Linked DNA regions of Homo sapiens. The protein of the gene in region 3 purifies or fractionates together with the protein of the main gene of each other region. This does not show direct contact. Each region holds a gene or a part of one and is shown on either strand. Other genes may lie near its edges.

Region 1 (3,891 bases), on a different chromosome or scaffold from region 3:
CACACAGATAACTAAGAGCCAGTCCCTGCCCTCCACCCAGCATTCGGCCTAGTGAGTTGAGTGAGAAATGCATTAAAGGCCCACTGAGGCTGTCTTATGGGAGCACTCAGGAGGGCACAAAAACAGAGTCTGGGAAGCTGCACAGAAGAGACCCGAAGGACAAGCAGGAGTTCACCAGATACAGGGAGGACATTCCAGGCAGGGAACACTGCAGGGCAAAGGCCCGGAGAGGTGAAAGCACAAGGTATGCCAGGCAGACGAGGCAGCTCAGTGTAGCCACAGAGTAGACGTAAGAGGGACTCTTGTCACACAGCAGACGGCTTCATGAATCAGCCTAAGACACACTAACTTTGACTCACAGGCCATTTTTTCTCAGGGGGACAGAGGCAGGTATTGCCATGCTAGTTGGCATTTAGAAATCTGTGTGTGTATTGGGGGTTAGTGGGGAAAACGTGACAACGTGGATGGATCTCAAAAACTATGTCTTTTTTTTTTTTTGGAGATGGAGTCTCGTTCTGTCACCCAGGCTTGAGTGCAGTGGCATGATCTTGGCTCACTGCAACCTCCACCTCCCAGGTTCCAGGGATTCTCCTGCCTCAGCCTCCCGAGTAGCTGGGACTACAGGTGTGTACCACCATGCCCAGCTAATTTTTGTATTTTTAGTAGAGATGGGATTTCACCATGTTGGCTAGGCTGGTCTCGAACTCCTGACCTCAGATGATCCACCCGTCTTGGCCTTCCAAAGTGCTGGGGTTACAGGTATGAGCCACTGCGTCTGGCTTCTTAAAAACTATTTCATGACACAAAAGAGCATGTACTATATGATTCCACTTATATGACGATTAGGAACAGACAAAATCCATCTACAATGATAGAAATTGGAATAATCGTTATCTCTGAACTTTTGCGGGTGATGGAAATCTTCTGAGTCTTGCTCTTGGTGATGGTTATATGAGCTCATGCAGTTGTCAAAATGCACTGAACAGAACACTTAAGATCTATACATTGGACTGCTTGTAAAGTAAACCTGAAGAACATGTGTGAGCATTTTTGGTTGTTATAATGACTGAAGGGTGCTCCAGGCAAATATATAGGAGATGGGGCCAGGGATGCTTTTACATCAAAGAACTCTCCCACCCAAAGGCCAGTAGGTCCCTGTTGAGAAATACGGCTGCAAGCTATGGGGAGCCACAGAAGGATGGAAACACCAGAGACTTGGCCACATCTGTACTTTGGTAAGACAGGGCTCTGTGGTGGTGGGAGTATCTTGGGACAGTGATGTGGCACAGAAGGTGGATATATGATTTTCACTGCCACTCCTAGGCCTCGTATTTGCCTAACTCTTAGCCCACTGGCCTGATGCTGCCCCGAAGGGGCCCCAGGAGGTCCCTCTGAGGTACCTCAGATGCTGACCAGCTAGGGAAGTAGCAGAGGCAGCAGATGGCAGTGGGAAATGGCAATGCCTCACCCCCAGCCTCCCTGCCTCATGATAAGCAGCAAGGATGATAGAAGTGATCATCTTCCTCTGAAGTGGAGTCTCAGTGAAGGGGTCTCCCTGAGTGTCTAGAGTCCCTGGAAGCAGGGCTGAACGCTACTGCTGCTACTATAGGAAAGCACTGTTTTACATCATGGGCTAAAGAAGAACACAGCTGACTTGCGTGAAAATACTCACCTGACCCCTGCCTTCGGAAAGCCTTCTCTGACCTCCGTCCTGGGCAGGTGTCTCTCCTGTGTTCCCACAGCCCTACAGAGCACAGTTACTGCCTAGGTTTAAATTCTGGCTCTGACTCTTGCTGTGCGTACCTGAAATAGAGTTACTCAAGCTCTCTGTTTCCTCACCTGCAAATTGAGGATAACAGAAACCGTCTTCACTGAACTGTCACCAAGATTGAGATAATGTAGTAAGCACTCAGTAAGAGTGAGTGCTTATGATGAGCCTAGAATGCATCAGTACAGACCACTGTTGCCAGGTGACTCCTCTGGCACCTCCACTAGACATTAAGCTCCTTGCGGGCAGGGTCCTTGTGGTCGTGTTGATTGCTGAGGGCCTTGTGTCCACCACAGTGCCTGGTACAGTAAATACTTGCATGCTTGAATCAATTCCACCCACTAAGATCTCTCCTGAGAGCTTTCTTTTTCCACCCACAATGCCTCTAAATCACAACAATTCTTCAGAAACGGAGTCAGACTCATTTGTATTCTGTTCCCTCTTCTCTCTTCTCTGTTACCTCCATGGCCATGCAGAACCCAAACAACATTTAGTTTTTAAATTAACAGCTTCTTCCTGGACTCTCTATTCCTAAGACTTCACTCAGTGGTCTTCATACTGGGCACACAAAAATCCTTTTTAAAAAATGCACCCTGCACCTCTCAAAAAGTGAAACACAGAATGATCATACGATCCAGCAATTCCACTGCGAGGTATATACCCCAAAGAATTGAAAGCGGGGGCTCAAACAGATCCTGGCACACCAATGTTCATAGCCGTATTATTCACAATAGCCAAAAGGTGGAAACAGATGAATGGCCAAACAATGTGGTATATCCATACAATGGAATATATTCAGCTTTGAAAATAAATGAGATTCTGATATATGATACCACAGAGACGACCCTTGAAAACATTAGGCTAAGTGAAAGAAGCCAGACAAAAAAAGACAAACATGATGCCACTTACACGAGGCACCTAGAATAGGTGAATTTATGGAGACAGAAAGTAGAACGGAGGTCACCAGAGGCTGGGGGAGATGGGAATGAGGAATTAGTATTTAATGAGTACAGCGATTCAGTCTGGGAAGATAAAAAGATTCTGGAGATGGACAGTGGTGATGGTTGTATAACACTGTAAATATACTTAACGCCACAAAATTATACAGTTAACATTGGTTAAAATGGTAAATTTCGTGTTATGTGTATTTTACCACAATTTAATAAAAGCCTCCCACACCAAACAAACAAAACACTGGAAGGACAGACTTCCCTCTGAAATCTGACAGAGCTGCATGTCCCTCTGCCACCCCTAGGGCTCTGTGACCTTGACCCCCTGGCCCATGATCTATCTTCCTCTCCATCCTCTCCTTGGTTCCAACTCTTGGGTTCCCTGTTCTTTTTCTTTTTTTCTTTTTGAGACAGGGTCTCACTCTGTCACCCAGGCTGGAGTGCAGCGGCGCTATCTTGGCTCACTGCAACCTCTGCCTCCTGGGTTCAAGCAATTCTCATGCCTCAGCCTCCTGAGTAGGAGGGGCTGCAGGTGTGCGCCACCATGCCTGGCTAATTTTTATATTTTTACTAGGGACAGAGTTTCACCGTGTTGGCCAGGCTGGTCTCAAACTCCTGACCCCAAATGATCCCCTGCCTCAGCCTCCCAAAGTGCTGGGATTACAGGCATGAGCCACTGCACCAAGCTCCCTGTTCTTTTTCTACTCCAGACGCCAGGGCCACGACATGTTCTTTTCCTTGCACCCCTCTTTAACCACCTTGATCCCATCATATCTCTTGAGGGTGCTTCAGATGGATGCTTTGAGACTCTGAGATGGAAAAGCTATGTGCCTGGAGATGCTCATTATTGACTATGTGCAACAATAAAGACATAGTTAAATAAAGCAGGGGTCAGCCAACCAAGTATAAACAGAGAAGTCATGACAAAATGTTAAGTGAAAAATGCAGGCTATAAACCTATATGTGGACTAATTTCAACTATTACAAAATACAGATTTACAGAAAACATAGAATAGGGCATATAAAATGATGGTTCATCTTACGTTTGTTCTCTAGCATGGAGTATGGTTATTTTCACAACTGTAATTTATAATTTATACCAGACAACATCTTTAGGCAGATGATGAAATACACACATTGTTAGTTTTGCAAGAATCTTCAGAATTGATTCCA
Region 2 (3,545 bases), on a different chromosome or scaffold from region 3:
ACCTCAAGTGATCTGCCCGCCTCGGCCTCCCAAAGTGCTTTTTTTGTGTCTTTGTTTTTAAGACAGCATCTCGCTCTGTCTCCCAGGCTGGAGTGCAGAGGTGCGATCATAACTCACTGCAGCCTTAACCTCCCGGGCTCAAGCGATCCTCATTAGCCTCGCGAGTAGCCTGGACCACAGGCTCACACCACCGTGCCCAGCTAATTTGGCTGTGTATTTTTAAACAATACTTTGTGAGTAGTGGCTTTTACTTGCTACTGGTGGCTCTTTGGTGGGGTGGCTGATCCAGGTGGTTGGGAGGGGCCTGGAGAGCAGGAATAAATCGCCTTGGAACACTCGGGTGTTTTGGGGGAATGGTCTTACCCAGGGCCCGGGGGTTCTTCGGACTCAGTGGCAATCTGTTCAAGTGGTGGGGTTGCCTGTCCCCACTAGAAAAGGTCATGGTGAAAATGCAGCCCATCCTGGTGCTGGGGGCATCCCACTCCCAGAGATTGGGGCAGACCAGGGCTGTGGCCCTTTTCGCCTTGCCTTTCTTCCCCTTTCCGGGGGCTGAAGTGGTGGCAGTGGAGACTGGCTTCTCACTGTGCCCCAGGCTCCTGGCCCCAGTGCCTTTCCTAGAAGCTGACCTGTGGGTAGGGGTCCCCGAGTCCTTGCCTTCCCCAGAGCCTCGCTGGGTCAGCAGAGGGACTGCTGGGCGGACCCCCATCCGCCGATGACACATCGCCATGGGCTTCTTGATGGTGAAGCCCTCTACCAGGAGCCGGATGCCCACATATTGAGGCACCTCCACAGCAGGCTGTGGGCAAGAAGAGGAGACAAGGCCCACTCAGTCAGTGGTACTGGAATCCTTGGCCCAGCGGGACCCAGAGTAGAGATGGGTGGAATTACTTTCTGAGGCACCTGGTCAAAGAGGCGTTTCTGAGCTGAGAAATGGAAAGCCCACCTCTGAGTCAGTACCTAGAGTCACAGAGCTCCAGGAATTGCTAGCCCAGAGGAAGGGGGAATCCTAGCCATGTCCCACCAGCACCCCTCAGCCACATTTCCCTCCTAAGCTGCCCCCAGCCCCTGCTGGAATGCGTGTGGCTCCACTGCACAGGCCACTGCTGGTGGACAGCTTCCTGAGCTGAGCCAATCAGATTCTCTGCACAGAGAATTTGAGTTACGCCACCCAGACAAGTAAGAGGTTTGGAGCCTGCCTAGAGCCTCGTGTGAATCCAGGTTATGGGGTAGCAGAAACTAAGAACCTTAAAGAAGACAGTCTGTGGAGAGAATGAAGTAACGAATATGCAGAGGAAGGCAGAGAGAAGGGTCCAGGAGAGGGACTCCCTTACAACTCTCAGTTCCTATCAGGCCAAGCTGTATGTCCTGCCCTCAGCTGGGCTCCAGGAGAGCTCCCTGTGCCTTGCTAGCAACCTGGAGCCAGTTGGAGGTATCTTCTGTGCCACTGAAGGATCCTGATCAGAATCTATCTAAACATCAGAATTACTTGGAGCTTGTTAAAAATACAGCTATTGGCCGGGCATGGTGGTCACACCTGTAATCCCAGAGCTTTGGGAGGCTAAGGTTGGCAGATCACTTGAGGTCAAGAGTTCGAGATCAGCCTGGCCAACATAACCAAACCCTGTCTCTACTAAAAATACAAAAAAATTAGCAGGTCATGGTGGCAGGCACCTGTAATCCCAGCTACTCGGGAGGTCGAGGCAGGAGAATTGCTTGAACCCAGGAGACAGAAGTTGCAGTGAGCCGAGATCGCACCATTGTACTCCAGCCTGGGTGAAAAGAGCGAAACTCCGTCTCAAAAAAAAAAAAAAAAAAAAAATGCAGCTATTGCCGGGCGCGGTGGCTCTCTGGGAGGCCAAGACAGGCGGATCAGCTGAGGTCAGGAATTGGAGACCAGCCTGGCCAACATGGCGAAACCCCATCTCTACTAAAAACACAAAAATTAGCCGGCCATGGTGGGCGCCTGTAATCCCAGCTACTCGGGATCTGAGGAGAATCACTTGAATCCGGGAGGCGGAGGTTGCAGTGAGCCGAGCTAGCACCACTGCACTCCAGCCTGGGTGGCAGAGTGAGACTCTGTCTAAAAAAAAAAAAAAAAAAAAATCAAATAAAAATGTAGCTATCAGCACTCCCAAGTAGCCCCAGATGATGAGGGAAAGTTCATCTTTACAGAAGAATCTCAGCTAATAAATGCAGAAGGAACAACAGAATTAGACATTTGCCATTTTGCAACTCTAATAAAATAGGCAATAATCAAAACTGGTATCAAAACAATTAGATGAAAGGATGACAGGAAAATGTGTAATCTGGACAGAGCCAACACAGCACCTTACAGAAAAATTAATTGCAAAGGGGAGATGTAGCTTATAATGGAGAGAATCTGGTAGCCACCACTGTAACCCACAGTCAAACTCAGCAGCACTAACTGTGAGACACTCTCACAGGATGTGCCTTGTGATGCCACATGAGGTACGCGGCATCACCTCTGAAGTGCTCTTGGGAAAAATGTTTAACCTCATCAAACTATTTGACCTAACTTCTAGTTCCTGAGACAATCAGCTAACAGAAGACCAAGGTAAATCACACCATAAGGAAACAATCAGATAAATCCAGAATGTGGGACAGTTCTACAAAACAACCCGCCTGGCCCCTCAAAAGATCAAAACTATGGGGTCAAAAGGCACTGGGGCTGGCCTAGATGAAAAGAGACAAAAAAAAACAGTGCAAGGTATAAGCCTTTACTATGTGCTGGCCTAAAAACAAAAACAAGAACAAATCAGCAATAAAAGACATTTAGAGGGCTTGGCGCGGTGGCTCATGCCAGTAATCCTAGCATTTTGGGAGGCCGAGGCGGGCAAATCACGAGGTCAGGAGATCGAGACCATCCTGGCTAACATGGTGAAACCCCATCTCTACTAAAATACAAAAAATTAGCCGGGCATGGTGGCAGGCACCTGTAGTCCCAGCTACTCAGGGGGCGGAGGCAGGAAAAGCGCTTGAACCCGGGAGGCGCAGCTTGCAGTGAGCCGAGATGGTGCCACTGCACTCCAGCCTAGGCAACAGAGCAAGACCCCGTCTCAAAAAAAAAAGATATTTGGGGGGCATTTGAAAAATGCAGATATACATAGTCTCCTCCCCAAGCTAGACATTTTGGGTCAATCTCTGGGGGTGGAGCCTCCTCACATCCATACCTTTAGAAGCTTTCAGATGCTTCTGGCCTGGGCACTGGCATTGGGAGCACTGCACTACAATGGCACCTTTTCCCTCAGCTTGCTCATATTTTCCTGCCCATGTATTTCCCCGTTTACATTTTTTGAAACCAAAACGCCAATATATTAATTTAAGAAATGATCAATAACAACTGTAACAAAGGCGAGGTCACTTAGGTCATGTGATCAGTACGTTCTCTTCCTGTAACCAAACCTTGACAGAAACCGGAGGCTAATCAGAAGCCACTTAAACTGCCACAAGAAATTCTATCCAGAACTCAGAAAGCCTTGCAATCAATTTTCTGACTGATTTTTTAAAATGCTGTTCTATTTTAC
Region 3 (3,891 bases):
GGGCAGCCCTAAGCCCTGGGTTGAAGGTTCCCTACATGGCCCTGTTTCTCACTTCACTGTCAGGTGCCCAAACCATGTGAGGACTTCACATACTCTCAGCTGTGTCCTGCCTCATGGACACAGGATTGTAAGTTTCCTGAGGCCTCCGAGTTATGCTTCCTGTTAAGCCTGAAGAACTATGGGCTGGGTGCGGTGGCTCACGCCTGTAATCCCAACACTTTGGGAGGCTGAGGAGGATGGATCACGAGGTCAGGAGATCAAGACCATCCTGGCCAACATGGTGAAAGCCCATCTCTACTAAAAATACAAAAATTAGCTGGGCGTAGTGGGGTGAGTCTGTCGTCCCAGCTATTCAGGAGGCTGAGGCAGAAGAATCGCTTGAACCTGGCAGGGAGAGATTGCAGTGAGCCGAGATTGTGCCACTGCACTCCAGCCTGGGCCACATCTCAAAAAAAAAAAAAAAAAAAAAAAAGAACTGTGAGTCAATTAAACTTCTTTTCTTCATAAAGTACCCAGTCTCAGGTAGTTCTTTGTAGCAATATGAAAACAGACTAATAGAATTCCCATCCTCATCTCATTCCAACTGATGCTTAGCAACTCTCCGACCTCACCCTATTACCCTCCTCAGCAACCCCATCATGTCCACTCTCCTTCAGAAGTCTTTCTCACTCCTATACCCCACCATCTCACATACACTCATCCCCACAAACACTCCATTCCCTCATTTGTCTAGTGACTCCTCCACCACTGCACAGCTACCCAGTAAGAGACCCAGTTCTCATGCCCCATTCCAATTCTCTGTCTTCGAACAGCACTGCCACCATAACCTAGAGATGCTGTCACCTAAACTGAATCCATGGCTTCATCCTGGTCCATACGACAGCCACCATAGTGTGGACGTCTCCAACCTGAACTCCTCCACCAGGAGTCTCTGAGACATCTGTGGCTTGAACAAACACTGACTCCTCACACTCACTCTGAAAATTCCTAATACTGCTGACTTCTCCCATCTTAGCTGATGGAGCATCTATGCTTCCAAACAAAAACCATGGGGCCACTCCTGATTCCCCTTCTATCCCACCCCCCCAGCTGCCTCACTCTCTACATCATAAAATGTGGGCAGCTCCAGTTCAAAACACATCCTGAAGCCACCGCTACTCTTGACAAGTCACCACCAACATCCACCTAGACTGCTGCAGGAACATCCTCTCAGATCTCCCTGCCATTACCCTCACCTCCACAGTCTGTCCTCCACTCAGACGCCAAAGAAAGTTCCTTAAGCTAGGGTCCTATCACTGCCCTCTTCTGCTTCAAATCTTCCCCATCTACCACCTCCCTTAGATTAGAGACCCAGGACCTAGGCTGTCATTCCAGGCCTGATGTTTGTGTGTCTCTAGCCACCTCCCACTCTGCTCCCTATTCCTATCCGATATAACAGACACTTGCAGTTCCCTAAAAATCCAGTTCAGTCTCTCCTCTAAACACTGAAACATTCTTAATCTTGTGCCCATGACACTCTGACAGATGTTACCACGTCAACTGTCAAAAATGGGAGCCACTCCACATAATCCAGGGCCATCCAGGTAAGGTGTCACAGTAAACTTAAAACAATCAAACAAAAATCCCAGACCTAATTTAAGATACTAGAACTGGTGGAATCACTCACTTTTCAGACATAAGAGAGGGAGAAAGACAGAAAGAGAGTCTCTGGACACCACTTTTCTTTACATGGAGGTGCCAAAACCATCTATGAGATAACTGGTAGGTGAAAGGTAGAAAACACTCCACTCACCTGTGCAGGGTTCATTTCTGCCATCGCCAGGGGACCCTGAAGGAAGAGGGAAACCGTGAGAAATGGGCAACGATGGGAAGATCTTACAGGCAGAGTTGGACCACCATCTCTTCTTCCTTACCCTAAAGCAAACTGATCTCAAGTTGATTGTATAAACTCAGCTCCTCCGACTTCACTGTTGGCTCTTAGCAGCACTGTGACTCTAGAAAAGAACTGAACCTGCTGGAGCTTCAGTGCTCTCATCTGTAAATAGGTTGTAAGAATGGCTCCCACCTCATAGGACTCTTACCGGTGTCAAACACTCGTTGCTCATCATATATATCAGCTATTACTGTTCTTGGATTAATGGTTTACTATATGTTTTCAGTATAAATGATGTAGTAGAATTTCAAAAACTGAGGTGTATATTTTTAGCTTTTAAAATTTTAGAGGATACTAAAATTTTCCATGGTATGTTGATAATTATAGGCAAATTTGGGTCAAATCAATTATGTAGTGTTTGCAGGAATTTAACTCAATGAATAGCTTCACTTCTAACTGCCTATGTGTACACATTTAGAAGGACACTGGTTAGTGCTTATACCAATAAGTGTTTCATATATTCTTAATGAGTTGTAGGGAAGGGCTGAGCAGGTAGGTCAGCTACTGGTCCTCTGCAACCAGGCCTGCCTGTTACATAAGGCTCTGAGGGGAGCTTGCTGGCAGACCTTGACTGGGGCAGTAGATCATCCAATCTTGCCTTGATATGTGGAGAAGGGGAAAAAGCAGTGCCCTAGTTTAGAACCCAGCTGCTCCACTAGCCTGGATAACTTTTTTCTTTTCCCACAAAGAGTGGCCCTGAGGGTCAGCCAAGCCTGTAGGTGCAGAATATAAACCATCTCAAACCTTAGTCTCCATCCCAAGCCCATTCCTTATCCCACCCACGCCTCCCTTTTTCTAGGCAGAGGACAAAATCCTTCCTATGGCAGGTCTGCGCCTTTCTAAAGTAAGCATCTGGCTTATGGCTCCACCTATGGTGTGAACCCCAAGTATCAGCTCTCTCCTCCCTCACCACATAGCTTGCAGGCAATGACCTTTAGACTTCCCTACCAAATTGGATCCTCAGGACCCGGTCCAATCTACACCCTCTATTCTTTTTTTTTTTTTTTTTTTTCTTGAACAAACCATTTAAGAAATCAAATAGGGTAAAAATGAAGGTAGCAATTTTACACAAGGATATAAGACAAAGCTTAGAATTACTTGCTGAAAAGTTATTCAGAATGGAACAAAATTGTTCAAGTGCTCCCAGTTAGCACAGGTTGTGTTACTTGCTTTTCAATGGACATTTACTATTTTACAGTAAGATCTACTTATCATAGGAACAAACAGACAATTCCCAGCCCCCTCTGGTGTATTGCCTAAAAGGCTGAGTACAAATGTTAATGTAATCCAAGCTTTTCTTTGACAACAACCCTAAAAATTGCCTTACAACTTTTCACAAGTACAGGCATCAACAGTTGATTGTCTGAGGGAAAGGAAATATAAGAATATAAAGTGACAGAAGCAACACACTTCACTGTGGCCTGGAACTGCTCCCAGCCTCCTATTTTACAAACATGATTCAGGTTCTCACATTATAGCAAGATCACTATTCCTAGCCTCTGGCAGAAGCAGACATGTGACACTTAGCACTGCACAAGTGTTTCTTTGGCTTCTTGAGTAGTGCTATGTATACTGCCAATACATTTTTATAACATCTCTAAATGCATAACGTCCACGTATGTGCTATGACATTTCACTTCCAATGGCAGAATATTTTAGTTTTAAATCTATCTACCAAATCTTGACTATGACATTTGTTTCTGGATTGTTATAAGATCAACCTATCTGGGCCGGGTATGGTGGCTCACACCTGTAATCCCAGCACTTTGGGAGGCTGAGGCAGGAGAATCGCTTGAAGTCAGGAGGCAGAGGTTGCAGTGAGCCAAGCGCCACTGCACTCCAGCCTGGACGACAGAGCAAAACTCCACGTCAAAAAAAAAAAAAAAAAAAACAATTTATCTGAATTGGGCAAGTCGAAAGCTTATTCCCAGCCAGGCGCAGTGGCTCACACCTGTAAT
Region 4 (3,891 bases), on a different chromosome or scaffold from region 3:
TTTTTTGAGATGGAGTCTTGCTCTGTCACCCAGGCTGGAGTGCAGTGGGGGCTCACTGCAACCTCCGCTTCCCAAGTTCAAGCGATTCCCTTGCCTCAGCCTCCCAAGTAGCTGGGACTACAGGCACTGCACCTGGCCTACTACACATCTTCTATGGTGAGATTCCATGTTATGTAACAGGCACGTAAGGTAATCAGACACCTGTGACCACAAGGAATTCAGTATAGGGAGGCATACCAGGTAAATACCAACACCATAAGTCATTAAAGAAATGCAAATTAAAAGCACAACAGATACTATTTCACATCCACTAGGATGGCTATAATCAAAATGTCAGATGAGTCTTGGTGAGAACGTGGAGAAATTAGAACCCTTGGACACTGCTGATGGGAATGTAAAATAGTACAGCCACAAACAATAGTCTGGCAGTTCCTCAAAAAGATAATGAGTTACCATTTGATCCAGCAATTTCACTCAGAGAAATGAAAACTTATGTCCACATAGAAACTCTTACACATTCCTGCAGATTCATATGGAGCAGAGAAAGTTTAGAATAAATTTTTTAAGTTTAAAAATAAAATTTGTACACATATCTTTATGGTAGCATATTATTCATAATAGCCCAAAAGTGAGAACACCACAAATGTCCATCAACCGAAAAACAGATAAATACAATGTGGTATGTCCATACAGTAGAATATGCGACTATAAAAAGGAACGAGTACAGATATACATGTTGCACAATGTGAGCCTTAAACATGCTAAATGAAAAAAGTTCGGCACACAAGGCCACATATTGGATGATTTAATTTATATTAAATGTTCAGAATAGGCAAATCCATACATAGAGATGGAAAGTAGACTTGTGGTTGCTTAGGGCTGGAGGGATGCGGGAAAAGGGAAATAAAATCTAACGGGCACAAGGTTTCTTTCTGAGGTGATGGAAAGTTTGAGGTTCTAAAATTGATTATGGGCCAGGCACGGTGCCTCACGCCTGTAATCCCAGCACTTTGGGAGGCCGAGGCAGGCAGACCACTTGAGGTCAAGAGTTTGAGACCAGCCTGGCCAACATGGTGAAACCCCATCTCTACTAAAAATACAAAAATTATGACCGGACATGGTGACTCACATCTGTAATCCCAGGTTATAAATAAATAAATAATAAAATGCCCTTTTTTTCCTTTATTTTTTTAGTGGAGTTCTTTAAGCCCAGCTACAATGGGAGGTAAGACTCATAACCATAATGAAAAGAATGGTAAACAAGACTACAGCAAGAGCATTTTGAAAAAGCTAGAGAGCAGGCCGGGCACAGTGGCTCATGTCTGTAATCCCAGCACTTTGGGAAGCCAAGGCAGACGGATCATCTGAACTCAGGAGTTCAAGACCAGCCTGACCAAAGTGGTGAAACCCCATCTCTACTAAAAATACAAAAATCAGCCAGGTGTGGTGGGCGCCTGTAATCCCAGCTACTCAGGAGGCTGAGGCAGGAGAATCGCTTAAACCCAGGCGGAGGCTGCAGTGAGCAAAGATTGTGCCACTACACTCCAGCCTTGGCGACAAGGGTGAAAATCCGTCTCAAAAAAAAAAACAAAGCTAGAGAGCAGATGGATGAGTGATAACTTTACGTAAGTGAAGAGTGGAAAACCAAGTCAATAGCAGGGCTAGCCTAGAAGACAATTTCCATCATGGAATCCCAGAAAGAGTGAGTCTCAACTTCCAGACAAATGAAATGGAAATACTTTGTGAGAATCACAATAGAAATTGTGTGTAAAAGTGCTTTTCAAATAGTAAAGTACTGCAAGAGCTGACTTTAGAGAAGCCTTATCACTACCTTGCCAAGTCATCACCCTGAGAAATCGCTCGGCTACTTCCTGAGGGAAACTCCAATGCTCCGGAAGGCACAGTGTTCCATCAGGTCTTTCAGAACACAATTTCTCCAGGTTAGCAATCAGGACATTCAGGCAGATGTTGACCAAAGTGTAGGGAGATGCCTCTTCCTAGCAAACAAAACCCCAAACAAACTTTGTTAGAATACATCTGCAACAATTCAACATAAAACTGGTCATGCCATACCTATTCCACTTGATGAGAGTATCTGAAGATACATCCTTCATACTCTAGTAATGATTTATATGTAACGAAACCACCTCATTCCTACTGTTAACTGAATGGAAAATTTAATCTGTTGTCCTTTCTGTTGTACAGCTGTCCCTCAAAATCTGTAGGAGATTGGTTCCAGAACTCTCTGACCAGTATCCACAGATGCTCAAGTCTCCTTATATAAAATGGTGTAAGGTTTGCATATAACCTATGCAGACATTCTCATATACTACAAATCATTTCTAAATTACTTATAAACACTAATACAGTATAAATCCTTTATACTGTATTGTTTACATAATGACAAGAAAAAAGTCTGTACATGTTCAATACAGATGCAGGTATTTTTCCCCAAATATTTTCCATCCAAAGTTGGCTGAATTCACATATACTGAACCCGTAGTCAGAGAGAACATACTGTATCTTGAAAAACATTAAGTTCTTTTTTTCTTTTTTTTGAAACAGGGTCTCACTATCGCCTAGGCTGGAGTGCAGTGGCACAATCACAGCCGAATGCAACTTTGACTTCCCCAGTCAGGTGATCCTTCCACTCAGCCTCCTGAGTAACTGGGACTACAAGCCCATGCCACCATGCCCAGCTAATTTTTTGTAGGTTTATTATAGAGTCCCACTTTGTTGTCCAAGCCAGTCTCGAAACTCATGGTATCAAGAGATCCTCCCACTTCAGCTTCCCCAAGTGCTGGATTACAGGCATGAGCCACCACACCCGGCCCCAATATTAAGTTCTCTTAACCCTTTACTTATCACCTGTTCTGTGCTAGCCACTGAAAATACAGAGGTGGGTAAGACATGGTTCTAGTCCCTTTAAAGCTAAAGTTTAGTGAAGAATACAAACAAGAAATCTGACAATTTCAATGCAACATTTGGGACACTCCAAGCAGAGATTACATGGTCATTCACTCAAAAAATATGTATTCATTGATTATCATGTGTCTATTCTCAAAACTGTTCACAACCTCAAACAGTGATACAGTCAAGGTCCTATGAAAGTGTAAGAAACTGACAGTAAGGTGAGGCTATAAAGGCATGTACAGATAGTCCCTGACTCATGATTTTTGGAATTACAACGGTATAAAGTAGAAACCATACTTCAAATTTTGAGTTTTGATCTCTTCCCAGGCTAGTGACATAATATGATACTCTTTCAATGCTGGTCAGCAGAGTGAGCTGCAGCTCCCAGTCAGCCACACGATCACAAGGGTAAACAACCAATACTTGATATCTTCTTGAACACTATGCCTGCTAAACCATCAACAAGTGTCAATGGGCTCCAATGCTTAGAAGAGCAACTGGTGACCCTGTTGATGTAGCTTCTCCATAATCCAGCAATTAACTTTTAGTTCAATGCTTCAAACATTCTTCAGGCCCAGAGTGCTTTCAACTGTGTATGTTTACAGTGAGTACACATATGACCACTGTTTTTCACTGTCAGTATCAATAAATTCCACGAGATATTCAACACTATAATGAAATGGGCTTTGTGTTAGATGATTTTCCTCGACTGTAGGCTAATATAAGAGTTCTGAGCACATTTAAGGTAGGCCAGACTAACCTATATTTGATAGTTTAGGTGTCTTAAATGCATTTTGAACTTAGAATATTTTAAATTTACAAGGGTTTTATTGGTATATAACCCTATCATAAGGCAAAAAATGCCTTTCTCCTCTACAAAATAGAAACGCTGGCCAAGCGTGGTAGCTGTTAATTCGTGCATTTTGGGAGGCCAAGGCGGGTGGATCACTTGAGGTCATGAGTTTGAGACCAGCCTGG

The links.
Region 1: the proteins of ZNF547 (region 3) and PTPN5 purify together in Homo sapiens (affinity purification with mass spectrometry; one large-scale study listed by BioGRID and IntAct). This does not show direct contact.
Region 2: the proteins of ZNF547 (region 3) and ARPC4-TTLL3 purify together in Homo sapiens (affinity purification with mass spectrometry, with the first as the bait; one large-scale study listed by BioGRID). This does not show direct contact.
Region 4: the proteins of ZNF547 (region 3) and ZYG11A purify together in Homo sapiens (affinity purification with mass spectrometry; one large-scale study listed by BioGRID and IntAct). This does not show direct contact.

What each region holds. Positions count from the first base shown.
Region 1 is NC_000011.10:18,781,747-18,785,637, forward strand, and holds part of PTPN5 (tyrosine-protein phosphatase non-receptor type 5), read right to left. Parts: intron 1-3,891. UniProt on the Homo sapiens protein: May regulate the activity of several effector molecules involved in synaptic plasticity and neuronal cell survival, including MAPKs, Src family kinases and NMDA receptors.
Region 2 is NC_000003.12:9,830,355-9,833,899, reverse strand, and holds part of ARPC4-TTLL3 (ARPC4-TTLL3 fusion protein), read right to left. Parts: intron 797-3,545; coding exon of another isoform or gene 364-796; intron 1-363. Other genes in the region: tubulin monoglycylase TTLL3, read right to left, coding at 655-796.
Region 3 is NC_000019.10:57,366,481-57,370,371, reverse strand, and holds part of ZNF547 (zinc finger protein 547), read right to left. Parts: intron 1,829-3,891; 5' UTR 1,817-1,828; coding exon 1,793-1,816; intron 1-1,792. UniProt on the Homo sapiens protein: May be involved in transcriptional regulation.
Region 4 is NC_000001.11:52,852,571-52,856,461, reverse strand, and holds part of ZYG11A (protein zyg-11 homolog A), read right to left. Parts: intron 1,998-3,891; coding exon 1,832-1,997; intron 1-1,831. UniProt on the Homo sapiens protein: Probably acts as a target recruitment subunit in an E3 ubiquitin ligase complex ZYGA-CUL2-elongin BC.